Regions from separate parts of the Homo sapiens genome. Here region 1 is linked to region 2. The links come from fine-mapping of genetic effects on gene expression. A gene starts in region 2. The other region holds a variant in brackets. All regions are shown on one strand. Distances are from middle to middle. Region 1 holds the start of LOC107985074 (a long non-coding RNA gene). Region 2 holds the start of CD300C (CD300c molecule).

Evidence for each region. PIP is the estimated chance that this variant, and not a neighbour inherited with it, causes the effect.
Region 1: its variant is the best candidate, but not a certain one, in a credible set for the expression of CD300C in blood mononuclear cells (TOPMed, PIP 0.70).

What each region holds. Positions count from the first base shown.
Region 1 is chr17:74,512,772-74,522,558 of GRCh38, forward strand. It overlaps CD300LB (CD300 molecule like family member b), which reads right to left. Exons shown (of 4, transcript NM_174892.4): 4 at 8,403-9,787. LOC107985074 (a long non-coding RNA gene) reads left to right here and starts at 8,260. Exons shown (of 3, transcript XR_007065902.1): 1 at 8,260-8,611. RefSeq lists an enhancer at 8,995-9,054. The variant CTCTT/C (reference allele first, on the strand shown) is at 6,030.
Region 2 is chr17:74,539,894-74,549,680 of GRCh38, forward strand. It overlaps CD300C (CD300c molecule), which reads right to left and starts at 6,222. Exons shown (of 4, transcript NM_006678.5): 1 at 5,829-6,222; 2 at 4,716-5,054; 3 at 2,968-3,094; 4 at 1,180-1,843. The coding sequence starts at 5,889. The coding sequence ends at 1,696. It also overlaps a transcript of LOC107985074 not described here.

The sequences.
Region 1 (9,787 bases), 27 kb before region 2:
AACTAAGGTTTAGGTTGGTGAGGGGGTGTACCCGAAGGATGACTCAAAGGGTACTTCACGGGTAAAGGAACTCAGCTCAAATAAGGTGACTCAAGTCTATTTACAGCCTTGTCCAGTGTGGACTCAAGAATAGCCTGGCCTACCACCCTGAGCTGTCAGGGAGGACAGATGAGATGGACATTGTGAAAATGGGGTACTGCCAGCCTTTAAAATGCGGCGAGTGCACAAGTCACGCAGTGCTGTTATCAACTCATGATATAAGTTCCTCTTCCCTCCCCCGACTGCCTGTGTTGAGTCTCAAATTCATCCCACTGCAGGGAGGTCAGAAAAAGTTCAGAACTTCTTTCTGACCTCCCTCTTGTGGGATTTAATGAGGACATGAAGTGGTGACATTGAGGTGGGAGTTAAGGAGAATGTGCTGGGCTTGGGGCCCAGCAGATGGACATATGTTACCTGTGCCCCTGGGGATGATTCTACCTTCTAAAATGGGCCATGGAAACCTGGTTTCATGTGGTTGGGTCAATCCCCCCAGTGCTTCTGAGGTTGATGAGTTAAACGATGCAAAGGCCATGGTTGGGAGATCTCCTCTTGGGATACGACTTTGGTGAATTTACCTGGGTCTGGTCCTCATTCCTGCAAATCTAGAACCCGACCACCATCCAGACAAGAAGAGAGACTGAGACCCTACAATAACTCAAGTGATTTATTTTGGGGACACTCCTTTCCAGGAAGCTGAATGCTTGTGACCCTCATCTGTTTTTCTGATTTCAGCTGCCTGGGAGGTTGCCTGAGCAGGCAGGAGGCAGCTCATGGGCATGGACTTGAACTGATGCCTCGAATGGCCTGCCTGGCCTTTGTCTTTCTTTATGTTCCATTACCAAATATTCTGCTCCTGGAATCACAGCCTTTGTTTTTATTTATTTATTTATTTATTTATTTATTTATTATTTTAAATGTTTTATAGAGATGGGGGGTCTTGCCAGTACAGGCTGGTCTCAAATTCCTGGGCTCAAGCAAACATCCTGCCTCAGCCTCCCAAAATGCTGGGATTACACAACAATGCCCTAAAATAAGACTTTCAGGTGAAGCTTATGCATGTCTTTCCTGCTTGGTGAGTAGGGTATGATTAGAGTTGGATTTTTCCATCCCATATTCACTCTACAGAATCAATTTAGTGTTCTGCTTATCTATGGGACATTGATGTCATGTGATGGGTGATGTCATGTGATGGGTGATGTCATGTGATGGGTGATGTCATGTGATGTGTGATGTCATGTGATGGGTGATGTCATGTGATGCATGATGTCATGTGATGGGTGATGTCATGTGATGGGTGATGCCATGTGATGGGTTATGTCATGTGATGGGTGATGCCATGTGACAGGTGGTCATGTGACAAGGTGATCCTGTGATGAGTGGTCATGTGATGGGTGATGTCATGTGATGGGTGATGGGATGGGCGATGTCATGTGATGGGTGATCATGTGACAGGTGATGTCATGTGATGGGTGGTCATGTGATGGGTGATATGTAATGGGTGATGTCATGTGGGGGTGGTCATGTGATAGGTGATGTCATGTGATCGACGATCATGTGATGGGTGATGTCATGTGATGGGTGATGTCATGTGATGGGTGATCATGTGACAAGTGATCATGTGATGGGTGATGTCATATCATGGGTGATGTCATGTGACAGGTGATCATGTGACAGGTGATCATGTGATGGGTGATGTCATGTGATGGGTGATGCCATGTGACATGTGGTCATGTGACAGGTGATGTCATGTGATGGGTGATCATGTGATGAGTGATGTCATGTGATGGGTGATGTCATGTGATAGGTGATCATGTGATGAGTGATGTCATGTGACAGGGATGTCATGTGATGGGTGATCATGTGATGGGTGCTGTCATGTAATGGGTGGTCATGTGATGGGTGATGTCATGTGATGGGTGATGTGATGGGCAATCATGTGATGGGTGATGTGATGGTGATCATGTGACAGGTGATGTCATGTGATGGGTGGTCATGTGATGGGTGATATCATGTAATGGGTGATGTCATGCGGGGGTGGTCATGTGATAGGTGATGTCATGTGATGGGTGATCATGTGATGGGTGATGTCACGTGATGGGTGATATCACATGATGGGCGACATCACGTGATGGGCGATCATATGATGGGTGATGTCATGTGATGGGCAATATCACGTGATGGGCGACATCACGTGATGGGCAATCATGTGATGGGTGATGTCACATCATGGGTGATCATGTGATGGGTGATTGATGTCATATGATTCCAGGGGGAGCACCTGTTCACCAAGCAGGGGAGAGGCTGTGAGTTCTCTGCCACGCTGGTAACACAATCTCTACTGGGGCTTCCTAGTGCTGACTGCTGCAGGTGGCTCATCATAGCACACCAAGGGCCACCACAGGGACACATTACCAAAGGAAACCCCAGAAGACACAAAACATCCCCTTCTTCCTCCATAAACTTGGGAGCCAGATGTTGGGTGACATCGTTCACCATCTCTGGCTGCTCTGGCCTTGCTGGAACCCCCTGTTTTCTCTTTCTCCTCTTGCATCATGATAAATGGCCGATCATTAATGGATGAAAAGTGGTGTCTCTGACACAAAGGCTCAACGAGGCGTCTCTGTCAAAGGGTCACACTAGATTCTATATCCACACACAGGAGACCTCTGGACTGGGGACCCTGAGCAGTGCCTTGGAGAATTCTGCAGCTTCCTGCTCTCAGGCCTGTGGCCCCATCTCTCCTTGATTGATGCCCCCAAGGATGCCCTGAGGTTAGAACACTCCCTCCGTGGGTGTGTTCTTGAGGCCACCCAAAGTGGGGAGCTGTGTCTGAGACTCCACTTACGGCCAGAATACTCAAAGGCGTTATCTCCCAGGTAAAATGGTGGACCAGAAACTACCTGCTTGTGAGTAAGTAAGGAAGGAGAGCCAAGGTAAAGCCATTAGCATTTGCAGACCAGTTGTTCCCTGACAAACATAGATTTAGAACAGAAATTGGCAGCTAAATAAAGTTTAGTACTTGTATTACTCAGGGTTCTCTAGAGGGACAGAACTAATAGGAGATATATATATATATATGAAGGGGAGTTTATTAGGAAAATGAACTCACACAATCACAAGGTAAAGTCCCACAATAGGCTGTTTGCAAGCTGAGGAGCCAGGAAGCCAGTCCAAGTACCAAAACCTCAAAGGTACGGAAGCTGACAGAGCAACCTTCAGTCTGTAGCTGAAAGCCCAAGAGCCCCTGGCAAATCACTGGTGTAAGTCCAAGAGTCCAGAAGCTGAAGAACTTGGAGTCCGATGTTCAAGGGCAGGAAGCATTTACCATGGGAGAAAGGTGGAGGCTGGAAGACTTAGCCAATCTAGTCTTTCATGTTCTTCTGCCTACTTTTATTCTGGCCACACTGGCAGCTGATTGGATGGTGCCCACCCGGATTGAGGGTGGGTCTGCCTTTCCCATTCCACTGACTCAAACGTTAATCTCCTTTGACAATACCCTCACAGACACACCCAGGAACAATACTTTGCATCCTTCAATCTGATCAAGTTGACATTCAGTATTAACCATCAAAGTACTTTTTTTTTTTTTGGCCAGTGGTACAGTTGCCTGGGTTAGTACTGAGACAAAAGGATGATGGTGGGGGATGCTGGCTTGCACAGGACTTCAGCTGTGAGGAGCCTGTGTCCTCGCGGAGGCTTCTGTTTGCAGAAAGAAAGTTGCCATGGCCCTGGAGGAGATGGAGCTGAGAAGCTGAGGAGGGGGAGAAAGGGTCAAGTTCCTGATGCTGCAGCCCACAGAGACCCCTCCAACCTGCCTCAGGAGAGGGTGTGAGGGCAGGAGCTTGTTGTGTTCACAAAGATGGAGGCACAGTGGTCTAGAAAGACCCAGGAGGAGGCTCAGAATGGAGCGGGGTCCAGCAAGACTTCTGCAACAGGCGTTTTTGTCTCCTCCTACCCAACTCCACTCCAGGATGGAGCCATCACCAGGTCTGGCCATCCACCCTTCCAAATGTGAATCAGGGGAGGATAGTCCCAGCTGGAAGCTGGTCCCAATCACCTTGTCAGTAATTAAGCTAGGGGTGGTCACCAGAGTCTGAAGCAGCCAATGAGACATTGAGGGGATGTGATGGGGGTGGGGACTCTGGGAAACTTCTGGGATCAGTGGTCTGGTTTTCTTCCTCAGAAGTCCTTGTGTCTGGTGTCTGGGCTGATCTCTCTCTGCTGCCTACTTCAGAGATCTCTCTCTGCTGCCTTAGGATGAAGACAGTTCTGAGGCCATGACCACAGAGCAAGAAGGAACTTGTATCAACCAATTCCAAGGACACCACCAAGGCCAAACAAACAAACCAAAAGCCCCAAATCAGCAATTAACAGTGAAACAAGAGAGGAAGCAGTGGCTGCCATGATCAGTGGCTGACCTTACAGAGAGGCTAGTATTTAGGGGATGAACTGCAGGGCTTGGGGGAGCAATAGGCTTAGACCACCCAAAATGGGCGCTGTGTCTGAGACTCCACTTAACGATCAGAATACTCAAAGGCACTACCTCCCAGATAAAATCTTGGACTAGAAACTACCTACTTGCGAGTAAGGGAAATGATTTTTTAAAAAAATAGTAATAATTGAAAAACTGGAAATTCATATGCAAAAGAATGACACTGGAGCCTTCCCTAATAACATAGACAAAAATTAACTCAAATGGATCAAAGACCTAAATGTAGGATCTAAAACCATAAAACTCTTAGAAGAAAACACAAGGCAAAAGTTTCACAGCATTGGATTTGCCAGTGATTTCATAGACATGATGCTGAGGGGACAGGCAACAACAACAACAACACAGACAAATGGAACTTCATGAAAATTTAAATTATGTGTTTTTGACTCATATCTTTTTTTTTTTAAGAGATGGGGGTTTTGCTATGCTGCCCAGGCTGAAATGCAGTGGCTATTTACTGGCATGATCATGGCGCACCACAGCCTCAAACTCCTGAGTCCAAGTGATCCTCTCACCTCTGCCTCCTGAGTAGCCAGGATTACAGGTGCAAACCACCATGTCTGGCTAAAATTTCAAAATTTGTGCACCAAATGACAATATCAACAGAGTAAAAAGGCAACTCACACAATGGGATAAAATATTTGCAAATTACATATCTGATAAGGAATTATATCCCAAATATAGACAGAACTCCTAAAACAATAAAAAAAAAAAAGGCCCGATTAAATGGGCAAAGGACTTGACATTTCTCCAGAAGAAATCTACAAATAGCCAATAAATACATGAAAAGATGCTCAACACCACTCATTATCAGGAAAATGCAAATCAAAACCACAATGGGATATCACTTCACACCTGTTAGAATAGCCATTGTGTGTGTGTATATATGTGTGTATAAAAACATGTATAAAACAACAGAAACAACAAATGCTGGTGAGAATGTGTATATATATATGTATAGAAACAACATGTATAAAACAACAGAAAACAACAAATGCTGGTGAGAATGTGGAGACACTAGAACCCTTGTGCACTATTGGTGGGGAGGTAAAATGGTGTAGCTGCTATTATGGGAAATAGTATTGAGGTTACTCAAAAAATTAAAAATAGAACTATCATATGATCCAGAAGTCCCACTTCTGGGTATTTATCCAGAAAAACTGAAAACAGGATTGCAAAGTGCTATCTGCATGCCTATGTTCATTGGAAGCAGCATTATTCACAATAACCAAGAGATGGAAACAGCCTAAACGTCCATCAATGGATGAATGGATAAAGAAAGTGTGATATGTACATACAATGTGATGCGGTTTGGCTCTGTGTCCCCACCCAAATCTCATCGTGTAGCTCCCATAATTCCCACATGTTGTAGGAGGGACCTGGTGGGAGATGACTGAATCATGAGGGCAGGGCTTCCCCGTGCTGTTCTGGTGGTAGTGAATGGGTCTCATGAGATCTGATGGTTTTATAAACGGGAGTCTCCCTGCAGAAGCTCTCT[CTCTT/C]TGCCTGCTGCCATCCATGTAAGATGTGACTTGCTCCTCCTTGCCTTCCACCATGATTGTAAGGCCTCCCCAGCCATGTGGAACTGTAAGTCCAATAAACCTCTTTCTTTTGTAAATTGCCCAGTCTTGGGTATGTGTTTATCGGCAGTGTGAAAACAGGCTAATACACAATGGAATAATATTTTAGTGGGGGATGAGAACAAAATATTTTATAGTGTGCTTGAAAGTAGGCTGAGAACACAGTTTTTTCTTCTATTTATTTTCTTTTAAAAATTATTACTATTTTTAATTGACACATAATCAGACATTTATGGGGCACATTGTGATATTTTGATACATGTATATAATGTGTAATGATCAAATAAGGGTAATCAGCATATCCATCACCTCACTTTTGTGTTGGAAACATTCAAAATCTACTCTTCTAGCTATTTGAAAATATACAATAAGTTGTTGACAATTATAGACATCCCCTAGTGCTATAGCACACGAGGATTTATTCTGCCTATGCAGCTGTACTTTTGTATCTGTTAACAAATCTCTGGCTATCCCCTAACCCCCAACACACTGCCCCACCTCTAATAACCACTGTTCTATTCTCTATGTCTTGAGATCAACTTGAGAACATGCAGTATTTCTCTTTCTGGGCCTGACTTATTTCATTCACATAACGTCCTCCAAGCTCATCCATGTTGCCACAAATGATAGAATTTTGTTCTTTTTTTTTTTTTTAAACGGTGTCTTGCTCTGTCGCCAGGCTGAAGTGCAGTGGCAGGATCTTGGCTCACTGCAACCTCCACCTCCTGGGTTCAAGCGATTCTCCTGCCTCAGCCTCCTGAGTAGCTGGGACTACAGGCACACACTAACAGGCCCAGCTAATTTTTGCATTTTTAGTAGAGACAGGGTTTCACCATGTTGGCCAGGATGGTCTTGATCTCTTGATCTCGTGATCCGCCTGCCTCGGCCTCCCAAAGTGCTGGGATTACAGGCGTGAGCCACCGCGCCCAGTCGAATTTTGTTCTTTCTTACATCTAAACAGTATTCCATTATGTATATGTGCCACGTATTCTTTATCTTACAATGGAATATAATTTTATTCAGCCTTAACAAAGAAGGAAATCCTGCCGTATTCAACAACATGGATGCATCTTGAGGACATTATGCTAACTAAAATAAGACAGTCACAGGTTAAAGGCTGCATGGTTCTGGTTACATGAGGTAACTAAACTAGTCACACTCATAGAAGCAAAAAGTAAAATAGTGGCAGCCGGGGGCTGGTGGAGGAGTGGGAGGGAGAGTTGCTACTCAATGGGCATGATTTAGTCATGCAAGGTGAGAAAGTTCTAGAACTCTGCTGTACAACAATGTGCATATAATTAATCATATTTTACCACACACCTAAGAGTTTGTTAAGAGGGCAGATTTCATGTTAGGTGTTTTTTGTTTGTTCATTTTTTACCACAATTTTTAAAAAGGGGAAGAAGAAGGAACCCATGTCTGCCTCTCTGGTGAGGGCCCTTCCCGCTGCTATCTCTTTACTGCCCCTAGCCAGCTGCCCTCGGCTCTGAACTTCCTCTGTGGCTATGCAGTTGTTCAGAAGTAAAGGCCTGTGGGAAGGGCCTCATGGGGAAGGAAAAGCTGTGCTTTTTTCTTAAAAGAGCAAGATCCACACCTGCCCACTAACTTTTTTTTTTTTTTTGAGACAGAGTTTCGCTCTGTCCTCTGTCACCCAGGCTGAAGTGCAATGGCACCATCTCGTCTCACTGCAACCTCCACTTCCCGGGTTCAAGTGATCCTCCTGCCTCAGCCTCCTGAGTAGCTGGGACTACAGGTGTACACCACCACACCCAGCTAATTGCTGTATTTTTAGTAGAGACAGCAGTTTTGCCATGTTGGCCAGGCTGGTCTTGAACTCCTGACCTCAGGTGATCCACCTGCCTCAGCCTCCCAAAGGTCTGGGATTACAGGCGGGAGCCACCATGCCCGGCCTCACTAACTTTTGGTTCCATTAAGTGTGAAAATCAGCATATGCCGAATCCTCATGGTCTGTGGCTATTTAAGGGCATGACGGCTTTGGCTCCAAGCTCCCAATGGAAACATATTTGCTGGAAAATGCAATGCCAGCACTAGTGACTCATTTATTGACTTCCGTCTTTCTCCCTACCCCAGAGAATGGGCGTATTAGGCAAGCCTTGCTTGTCAGCTTGTGTTGGAACCCCAAGGGGTATTCCTAGAGATGTGTACAAGGGGTGGTGGTGTAAGGGCGTGCGCGGTGGGTGGTAGTTGGGCAGACAGACAATAGATGCCTACTTTACTCCAGTGGATTCTCCTTAACAGAGCCACGAGAATAACAACCCAGCCACACTAGCTCCAGAGAGATTGACGGATTCATTGAATATCAACAGGAAGAAACGGTGGGAAAAGAATGACATCACGTTGACAAGCGCCCATGTCCCCTCGCCCCTGAGTCCAGCTGGTGAAGCACCATGCTTTGGCTTTCCCTCCCGCGGAGCGGTGCCGTCCTCCCTGGGTCTGGTCGGATCTTCGGGAAGCTGGATCCAGGAAAGCATTCCAGGAGGTAGGGCCCTGGGGCTGGTGGACTGTGGGTCTTGGTCCCTCACAGAATGACTCAGGGGATCTTAGCCGGGCTCGAACTCTCCTCTCTGGCCATTATGGAATTTTCAGGCCCATCATTGGCCAGAGACCTAAATTCAGTTCAAAGTCAGAGAAAGTTTCTCTTTGGCTGAAGGACAAGAAGAGGGGAGGCTCTGGGTGCCATGCTAGGGACCAGAGGGTCCCCTCTCCTTTATCCACTGCTGACAGTCAGTACTCCCTATTAGAACCAAGAGCAGGTTGGAGGCGTCCTCATGGGTGTTCAAAGGGCAACATGCCGAACATGTGTGGTGTGTTTGCTTGTGGGCAGGTGGGGGCGGGAGCACATCTCACATGGGAAGGTCCCTTTGGTGTGAGGGTCCCTCAACCATACAGCACAAAGTGACCACATTCAAGGGCCTCATCGCCGTGGGTGAAGCCTGTGAGGAGACAGAACCACTTCCCTAGGACAGTTTTCATTAGTAACATGATTTCAACATCACCGAAAAGGGAGGGTGCCATTTCCTGCGATGGTTTTCGTTACTGCCCTCCCCACCTGGAGGTGGTTCTTGAGGCCTGACAGGCTCTTTTGGGGAGGAGACCCAAGCTGTCATGCTGAGGAGGCTCCCAAGCTGCAGCCCCTCGGAGGTGGGGGAATAGGCAGGGAGCTTGGGGAGCTAGGAGGAGGAAGAGGTGGGAGGGGGAGGACAAGCACCGGGCCGGGCCAGGGAGGTTCCCATTGCCTCCTCAGCCCTGTGGACTCAGAGCCATGTCCTCCCTGGGGACAGGGTCCATCCAGCCCCTCATGCCCTAGAACCAGGAACTCATCCCAGAATCACCCTCCTTGTGTGTGGGATCAGAGAGGTTTCCTATGAACATAAGTCATTAAAACCCAACTTTGCTAGAAAAAAAAAAATTTAAAAACACGGATATATCAGGTTCTCAGGCAAAGACGGTGTTGAGTTGGTCTCCGGAATGATGGAAGTCTAGGGCTGGGGGGGTCTCCCCCAACCTCTTTCTGTACTTTGGTCCCATGCTCTGTGCCCGAGTTATTCCAGCAGTGGGGACAGAGTCGTCCAGTGCTTGAGCTCCATCTCTACAGCTCCTGACCAAGAGAACAGGTGCTGGCACCCCAGGAGGTGATGGTGGCTCAGGAGAGGAC
Region 2 (9,787 bases):
TTGTCCTGATCACAGCTGTGACTTGCTGTCATCCTGGGGTCTGCCAAGGGCAAGTCAACAAATTGCTTGTTGAATGAATGAATGAATGCATGACTCTCTCGAGTCTTACCTGCCTTCAGAAAACTTAATTGTCTGATGCTGGTGTGCCATATCCAGCTCAGGCTGGGGAGGAGACAGAGAATGCTATCTGCAGGCCCTGGAGCCACTGGATCCAGAGAGGGATCTGCTTCCTGTGTTTTCCAGATCCAAGTCTAAGATGCCCCCCTGGCAGGACACATGCACCTGCTGCTCTCTCTGCCTCAGGGCTCCTCCTCCAGGGATCCTGGCGCTCACCCCCCTCCTTTCTCCTGATCCCTGCTTGCTCAGCGCCTATTAGAGGGGCTTCATCACAGACCCCTCCACTCCTGCAAAGCAGTCACCCCACTTCTCTTATTTTACTCCGTGGCTCTTTTCACCTCTGTCTTTTACATTACCTCTGGAACATATTCATGTATTTTTGCATTTGTTTATCATTTCTATCCCCCACCTGGAATATGGGCTCAGTGTAAACAGAGCTCCTTGCCTGGGTGTTCACGGCTGGACTCCAATGCCAGGTCAGTGTCTGATACACCAAAAGCTCCCATAAGCATCTGCCGAATGGAAAAAAGGGTTAAGAACCCCCCAGGCGAGGCCCTCCTTGACCAGGAGGACTCATGGGAATCATCTGCCTCACAGGGGTCTTGGGTGTTGGCCAGGTCATCATGGCGACCCTGGAACTGAAATGGTGGGCAAATGATAACATCTTTCGTCTGTATAGACAGACATGGTCTACACTACTGAGCAAAAGACTCACTTAACTACCACATCAAGGAGTCATAGCCCTCCATCCGTTTCCAAATTTGCACCAGTTAAAACCCACAGCCCTGGAATGAAGGAGAGGTCAGGTCCCCTTGAAGAAGGAGGAAGGGTAGGCCTGGTTATGCTACCACAGTTCACACTGAGAATCTTCTACCAGCTCTCCCAGAGGGACCTAAAGACACTGGCCAGGATGTGTCTACCTGAAGGAGGGAATAGTCAGGCTTTGGGGGAAATTCTGGATCCTTTTCTGCAGGGACCCCCATTCCGAGAGGCCTAACATGGGGCTTGGTCCACTATTCTCAGCAAAGGCCTGTGGAAATCAGGGAACAATGGATTTCTCACTCAGGTCTGACTGAGTGGGCCTGATACATCCCAAACCTACACATTGTCATTTATTAAAGTTTGAAAGCATCATTGAATCGACACACTCAGCAAATGGAAGCAGCCGCATATTCTACACTCCTGGACCCAGGGAGTGTGGGCCATTATGGTGGCAAAGGTGCAGGGGAGTCCTAGACCTGCTTCTCCCTGTGAAAACGGTGGAGGAAGCAGTGCCAGGCTCCTGGAGAAATGGAAGGGTGCAGGGAGGGCATCCGGGCACTCAGAGGTATTGCTGACGGCCCGAGGCTTAGCTGGCCGGGGCGTGCACATGAGACGTGGACTCACAGCTCAGGGCGTCCATGTCCGTCAGGTTCACATGTGACACATGAGGATCGGGCACAGGGAAAAGGCTGAAGGAGGCTCACAAAGGATTCCAGGAGATGTGGAGAGAGCAGCCCGGGAGGGAGTGGTCAGGAGGTCATTCCAGTCCCCCAGAGGGGCTCTGTTGCAGCACAGGGCCTTGATGGACAGCAGATGCTACTGGTTCTCACCCTTGGGCCAATTCTGCCTGCTTCTAGAGCTTCTCTGAGGTCTGTTCACCCAGAGGACGGCACCCAGCATGCTCAGGAGCAGGGGCAGCTCCAAGAGGACCAGGAGCAGGAAGCGGACATTGCTGAACAGGGAGCTGTGGGGACACGGTGACAGGCAGTGAGTCACCTCCCCAGGGGAGGCCCAGGTGCCCTCCACCATCCCCTGACCCTTGTGTCCCAATCCTGTGACCACAGCCAACCACATAAGCACCCCCCTGGACAGTCCATCCCGTCTCAGCATCACGGCCCCTAACCCTCAGCCTCGGATTTACCCTTGACCTGAGGACTGTGACACAGGAAGGGCAGGACCATGAGAGGACGTGAGGTCACGCCAGGGATCCAGGCAGGGTCTGTGTCCAGGACGCAGCTGTCTACCTCTGTGCTCCCCATGGAGGGTTACCCAGCTGGGGTCCCGGAATTCACAAAGGGTTATTTGTTTGGTGTCAACTCTCCTGTACACAGCGTTTCCAGGAGGGCAGGGACCATTTGTTTCATTCACAGTGAGTACCTGCTGCCTACCCGGAGTCTCCAATAATCTGCCCTACAACTTCAGTGGTTGTTGAAGGAATTAATGAATGGACAGCTCAGCTCTCAGCTCCTCAGAGGACTGGGCTTATCAAACAGGATGAAACTCTGGCCAGGGCTGCGAGAGAGGCAGGGGAGAGGACCAGGGCCACCGGACCCCAGAGCATCTGCCCCCTTCCCTGGCCTGGCCAGGTCCCAAGGCTCCTCGCAGGACATTTGCCTCACTCCTCCCTCCACCTGGACCCTTCTTCCTCCAGACCCCAGAGTGCCCAGCCCCCAACCCTTGAGGTCTCTGTGCTCATGTCCTCTAATTCTCAAACCCTCTTCTGATCATCGTCAGTGAAATAGCAACTCCAACACCTGCACACGCTCTCCCCAAACCCAAGAGTCAAACATCTCATCCCAGCATTCATTACCCTTTGCTGTATTTGTACATCAGCCTCTGTGCTGACTTGCTCAATGCGTGAATCCACGCAGTAGAACTCAACTTCCACCAGGGCAGGACAGTGGCTGTGTGGTTCCCTGCTGTGACCCAATCCCAAAAGGAGCGCCTGACACTTAATAGAACCTTCACGTTTGGTGTGGGAGGTGCGAACAAAGAAGGGACTGGAAGAAGGGACATCCGAGTCCCCTAAACATCACACGCAGTGGGGAGGCCGCCAGCGTGGCCCAGTCCTATGCGCAGGCACCTTACCCAGGGTGTGGGCTGGGTTCGGGGCTGTCCTTTCTGGTCACGCTGGGCCAGGTGTGCACGGGCAGCTTCGTGGGAGGACCTGAGGTGCCCATGGAGCTCTGGGGGCTGGAGGCTGTGGTCGTCCCGGCTGTGGGTGAAACACAGGTCAACCTTGATGACATCACATGGGTCTCCCACTTACTCTCACCTGTTCTGCTCCAATTTTCACAGACAAGGTCACCAATGATGTGCTGGACAGATGCCCTGCATCCATCATGCCCCACGGCCACACCCAGGCCTGACCAGGGTCCTGGGCCTCTCCTTGTCCCATCCCTAGGTACTGCAGAGCCAGGACACCATTTCAGATGTGAGAGCTGCCCTGCTCACCTGTGGCAAAGGTACGGGTCTCCAGGTTTCACCCCAGCCAGGGAGGGACAGGGTGACCTGGGGGAATGGGGTGATGTTTACTCTGCGAAGGGTGACCCAGAGTGACTGCGAAGCCAGGGCCCTGGGCACAGCAGTGGCTGGAGAGAGGCTGGAAGTGAGGACAGGAAGTCAGTGGGGTCCTCCCTGAACGATGGGACCCGAGTCCACTCAGCCCCAAATGGCAGCCATGCTGCGGCCCCACAAGGCCATTGGACCATCCTCTCAGCAGGAGGGAATGCCCAGGAAGAAAGATCTAGAGAGGGGATGCCCGGTGAAGCCTGGGCGGCGGCCCGTGGTGAATACAGCTGGATAAGGGCCCTTTCCTCCTCTCCCTGGCGCCCTCAGGTGGGATCTTAGCTCCTCACTCCTAGATAGGAAGGCACAAAGGGCGCAGGAGGGACACGTCGCCCCCGGGGAAATGGAGAACAAGAAGATGCTCCGAGGAACCTGGGACATTGTCAGAAGAAAACGATGGAAAAGCAACCACACTGAGGCCACTGGGTTTGTGTCTTGTGAGACAGGAGGGGGCCTTTGAGGGAAGAATGATCTTCGGCACGGGAAAGGGCCCTCAGGTCCGTGCCAGTCTCAGCTCATTTCCATCCACAGGTCCCTTTGCCTGAGGGGGCAATTTCTGGGGTTCCCTCCTGTGGTAAAAGGTGCCAGAGAATAAGGGGGACACACAGGTCAGCCTCAGGGGCAGGATGTGGTTCCCAGGAGCATGAGAACCCCACCCAGGGCTCTGGGGCTCCTTCCTGTGTCCTCCAGTGGCTGCTGCAGGAGCTCCCAGGACAGGGCTGTGAGGCTGCGGCCTCAGGACCCTCCAGACAGGGCGGCATCCATGCAGGCCCCAGGGCAGGGGCAGCCTTGAGTGAGAGGAGCCAATGATGGGGGGGTCCAATTCCCCGTGGGGAAGAGCGAGTTAGACCCAGGCGGGACAGTGGGCACCCTTCAGTATGGATCCGGCCCTTGTCAATACAGGGAGGTAGCAAGGACCCCAGAGTCAGGGGTGGCCTCACAGACCCCACCCAGGAAAGTTTCAGGCCTGAGGCCGTGAGGGAGGGCCCACAGCGGGGGGTCTCCAGCCACAGGGCCAGGGTGCTTTTGTGGGCGCCCACCCTCCCAACACACACATGCAGGTGCACACACACACAAACCACACCACAACTCCTATGCAGGCACGCATACACAAAGACGCACTCACACTCATCCACACACAGCGGCACACAGTGTCCTGACTCACCAACCCCCAGGCTCACACCCTCCTGTTCCACTTCTTTCTTCAGGGACAGAATGACCAGCCCTAGGCTCAGGCAGGCCTGGTGCTGAGAAAAGGAGGGGCTCACCCGGGAACACGGACACCTCAACCTCGACAATGGGATCATGAAAGTCTCGGAGCCACGGTGTATCCACCCCACACCAGTAGGTGCCTGCGTCCTCCTCTGTGAGATTCTCCAGGGTCACTGTGAAGCTGAGGTTTGCAGGACTGTCCCTGATGGACACTCGGCCATTCCTTTTCCCTGCTGACCCTTTGGTCTCCACAATCTTGTCACATCGGAGAATCTGTGGTGGTCTGCACCAGAATTTGTTGAGGGTCCTGTGTTCCTTCTCATAGCGACACTGCACACTCAGGGATCCCCCCACGGGGCCCGCCACGGTCATGGGGTGGCTCAGAGGAAAATAGCCTGAAAAATACAAGCCAAAATCCTGTCTCCTTACCAGAGGGGCCTGGTCAGGGGTGCCGCAGTGTCAGCCCCTCATGGACCCTGGGCGTGTGGAGAAGGCAATGGCAGGCAGGCAGCCTTTGTCCACCCAGGAACAGGGACTGAGGGTGGGAGGCTCCCTCTGTGCAGAGGTGGGAAGGGCATGGGAAGTTTCCATGGAGACTGGAAAGGCAAGGCTAGGGAAACACTGGGTGTGTGCGGGCCTGTGTGTGCATGTGAGTGTGACTCTGTGTGTGTGACTGTGTGAGTGTGACTGTCTGTGTGAGTGTGACTGTGTGTGACTGTGTGTGCATGTGTGACTGTGTGTGCATGTGAGTGTGACTGTGTGTGCATGTGTGACTGTGTGCATGTGTGTGTGAGACTGTGTGAGTGTGACTGTGTGTGCATGTGTGTGAGACTGTGTGAGTGTGACCGTGTGTGCGTGTGAGTGTGACTGTGTGTGTGATCGTCCCAGATAAAATTTGTGATTGGATAACTTTGGCAATGACAGTCACAGCATCACCTCCCACCAGGGCTTCCTGTCTCGGGCACAGAGGAATAGGCCTCCCCCGTGCTGTGCCCTGCCGCCTGCTGTCCCCTGGTGAGGCAGCTGCTGACCGCTCCTGGGTGCTCCTTTGCCCTCCTCCCCTCTCCCTGCCCCACTCCCCTCTATGACCGCTACTCCAGCGCCTGCACCCCTCCCTGCCCTCTCCCACTCAGGACAGAGCTCCCCAAGTCCAGGGTCGGCCCACTCACCTGGGACAAGCAGGAGGAGCAGAGCTGAAGACCGCCACGAGGCCCAGGCCCTGGCAGTCATTCCTGTAACACGAATGTCACCTGCCACTGTGCAAGACCCCAGGAGGGGACAAAATGTAATCTCCTCCCAGCAGATCTGAGCTTCGCTTCTGCTTTTCTTCTGCTCTCTGCTTCCTTGTCCAGCCCTGTCTCAGGTCTGAGGCTGGAGAGGGTCAGGGTACAGGAAGCTCAGGGAGAGAGCCGCCTGGGCTGAGGCCGGTGCTGACAGCTCTGGGATGGTGCTAGTGGCTCCTCTCAACCCTGACGTCTGGCAAAGTCCAGGGTCCCTTGGGTGGCGATGCAGCCACTTCCCCACAGCCCACAGCTTCTGGCTTCAGTGTGTTACTCACACTGCAGAAGGCAGAGCCAAGCTGGGCCATTTCCTACCACATGGGCTGCTCCACCCTCTGTGACATGTCACTTCCTGGTCAGGATGGACAATCTTGTGGTTGGAGGCTAAATCTGCCACCTTCTTTAGCCTTGGAGGTGACCAGAGAGAGGTTGTGTCCCTTAATCTTCAGCTAGGTCCCCGCAGAGACCTCTGCCCCTAAGACCCCCAGCTCTTCTTCTGGCCTCAGAAGTTAGCGCTATGAACCCAGACACCATCTGCATGTCCCTTTTTGGTGCTGAGTCCCCAACCAGGTTAAAATCCCACAGGCTTGGGGAGTTTTCCTCTTGTGCCCCTGCCCCCAGACCTACACACACAGCGGCATCACCCACCCGAGACCCTCCTTTTCCATCTTGTCTTCTTGCCAAAATCCATGCCCCAGTGGGAATCAGGGCAGAGAACTGAGAATAGAGAGAGAGTTCAGACATGTGAAGATGCTGAAGTGGGACTTTGTGGAGGATGTGAGGCTGCGACTGAGCCAGCACACACCCCAGGGCACACGGAGGGGTGTTTGGTGACTGAGAGGACAGTTTGTCATGAGCAGCGGCTGCTGGTGTCTATCCTGGGTCCACTGTGATGGCCAGGGGCCTCCGCAGGGAGCAGACATGGCAGACAGGCCTTCCCAGGAGGCGGGAACCCAGGTCTATCCACACTCGGCATGGCTGGTTCTCCTGACGTGATGGGCTCAGGGTGTCTTTACCCTGGAAAGGGCAAGGAGGCTAGTCAGACACAGGATTTACCTCCTGTCTGTCCTGGAGGGCATCACCCCTTCTCCACCTTCTCATGCCTTAAGCATATTCCTTGACTCTCCCAACCCTCCTACAGATTTCTGTTCCTTTCTTCCTATCAGAGTCAATAGCACCAGTATGTGCACACAGCCATGAGGTTGAGTGGAGAGTGATGGGAGTCTGGGCAAACCTGGCACCATGAAGGGGTCTCTGCACCCTCGACCTGCCCTGTCCTCCCTCCATTTACACTCTCAGGGACACAGCATGCACTGGGGTCATTGGTGTTGATGCCCCCAGACTCACATCATGGGACTATCTCTAGCCCAGTGCAATCCCAGGGCCTCCAATTAGCCCAGTGCTCAGGTCTGGCCTGGGCCTGGCTTTGAAGTATCCCGGCTCTTTCATGGGCTGACCTGGTCTCCCCTTCTGCTCATACCCACCCCTTTCATTCTCCACAGAATCAGCAATGTGATCCCTGACACACACACATGGCCCTGGGGAGGCGCTGCTGAACTCCCAATGGCTCCTGCTGTCACAGGATGGCACCCACCTGACCTGGCCTCTGCACACAGGTCCTGGCAGGCCCCAGCACCTGGTAGGTGTCTCCAGCCTCCTGGATCCAGGTTCACACTGGTGCTGCCACCCTCCCCACTCGGGCCTTTGTCCAGACCCTCAACCTCCCACTCCTCTGCCTGGCTCCAGCCGACAGGGTTGCCTGCGTGTTCCTTGACCTTCCCGGGTTATGGTGGCTCGCTTTTTAGGGGTCCTCATGACCCATTTCACACTTCCCTCTCGTCTTCCTCAGTCTTTCTGTTGGCGAGTCAATGTCTGCTCCCATCTAGGGTGGCCGCCCCTTGAGAGCAGGTGCAGCCTCTTGTCTCATTCACAGCTGTGCCCGTTATCATTCCAGAGTCTGCCAAGTGCAGTTTAACAAACTGGCTGTTGAAAGGATGAATGGGTGAATGGATACATGACATCCTGATGTCCCACTGCCTCAGAGGACTTAGTCATCCAAAGTTGGTGCACCATTTCCTGCCCAGGCTGGGGAGGAGACAGGAAATGCTGTCTGGAGGCCCTGAAGCCACCTGACCCAGGGAGGCATCTGCCCCTGGCAGGACATGTGCACCTGCTCCTCTCTCTGCCTCAGGGCTCCTCCTCCAGGGATCCTGGCGCTCACCCCCTCCTTTCTCCTGATCCCTGCTTGCTCAGCGCCTATTAGAGGGGCTTCACCACAGTCCCCCTCAGCTCCTGCACAGCAGTCACCCCACTTCTCTTATTTCATTCCGTGACTCTTTTCATCTCTGACTTTTATATTTCTTCTGGAATTTATGCACGTATTTTTGCATCTGTTTATCATTTCTATCCCCCGCCTGGAATATGAGCTCAATGAAAACAGAGCTCCTTGCCTGGGTGTTCACGGCTGGACTCCAATGCCAGGTCAGTGTCTGATACACCAGAAGCTCCCATAAGTATCTGCTGAATGTAAAAATAGGTGAGGACCCCCAGGCGTGTCCCTCCTTGACCTGGTGGACTCATGGGGATCATCTGCCTCACAGGGGTCTTGGGTGTGGCATCCCTGGAACCGAAACGATGGTCAGCTGATAACGTCTTCCTTTGTCTGGATAAGCAGACATGGTCTGCACTAGTAAGCAAAAGACTCAGTTAACTACCACATTAAGAAGTCACGGCCCTCAACCAATTTCCATATTTGAGTCAGTTAAAAGCCACAGCCCTGGAATGAAGGGGAGGTCAGGTCCCCTTGAGGAAGGAGGAAGGAAAGGCCTGGCTACCATGCCACAACTCACACTGATAATCTTCTACCAGCCCTCCCGCAGGGACCAGAAGACACTGGCCAGGATGTGTCTACATAAGGAACGGAATTGTCAGGTTTTGGGGGGAATCCTGGATCCTCTTCTGCAGGGACCCCAGTCCTGAGAGGCCCAGCCTGGGGCTTAGTCCACTATTCTGAGCAAAGGCCTGTGGAGATCAGGGAACAATGGAGTTTTCACCCAGGTCTGACTTAGTGGGCATGATAGGTCCAGAATCTATGTATTGTCATTTCTTAAAGTTCGAAAGCATCATTGAATTGACACACTCAGCAAATGGAAGCAGCCACATATTCTGCACTCCTGGACCCGGGGAGTGTGGGCCATTATGGTGGCAAAGGTGCAGGGGAGTCCTGGACCTGCTCCTCCCTGTGAAAACGTTGAAGGAAGCAATGCCAAGCTCCTGGAGAAATGGAAAGGTGCAGAGAGGGCATCAGGCACTTAGAGGTGTTGGTGACAGCTCGAGGTTCAGCTGGCCAGGGCGTGCACATGAGACATGGAGTCACAGCTCAGGGCGTCTGTGTCCATCAGGTTCACGTGTGATTCATGGATCAGGCACAGGGAAAAGGCTGAAGGAGGCTCACAGAGAATTCCAGGAGATGTGGAGAGAGCAGCCCGGGAGGGAGTGGTCAGGAGGTCATTCCAGTCCCGCAAAGGGGTTCTGTCGCAGTGCAGGGCCTTGATGGACAGTAGATGCTACTGGTTCTCACCCTCTGGCCAACTCTGCCTGCTTCCAGAGCTTCTCTGAGGTCCGTTCACCCAGACGACGGCACCCAGCATGCTCAGGAGCAGGGGCAGCTCCAGGACCAGGAGCAGGACGTAGGGGCTGCTGAACAGGGAGCTGTGGGGACACGGTGATGGCAGTGAGTCATCTCCCCAGGGGAAGCCCAGGTGCCCTCCACCTTCTGCCTGTCTGTGAACCCAGGTCCTGTGGCCACACAAATCCCTGTGAGGACAAACTCTGTATATGACAACTCC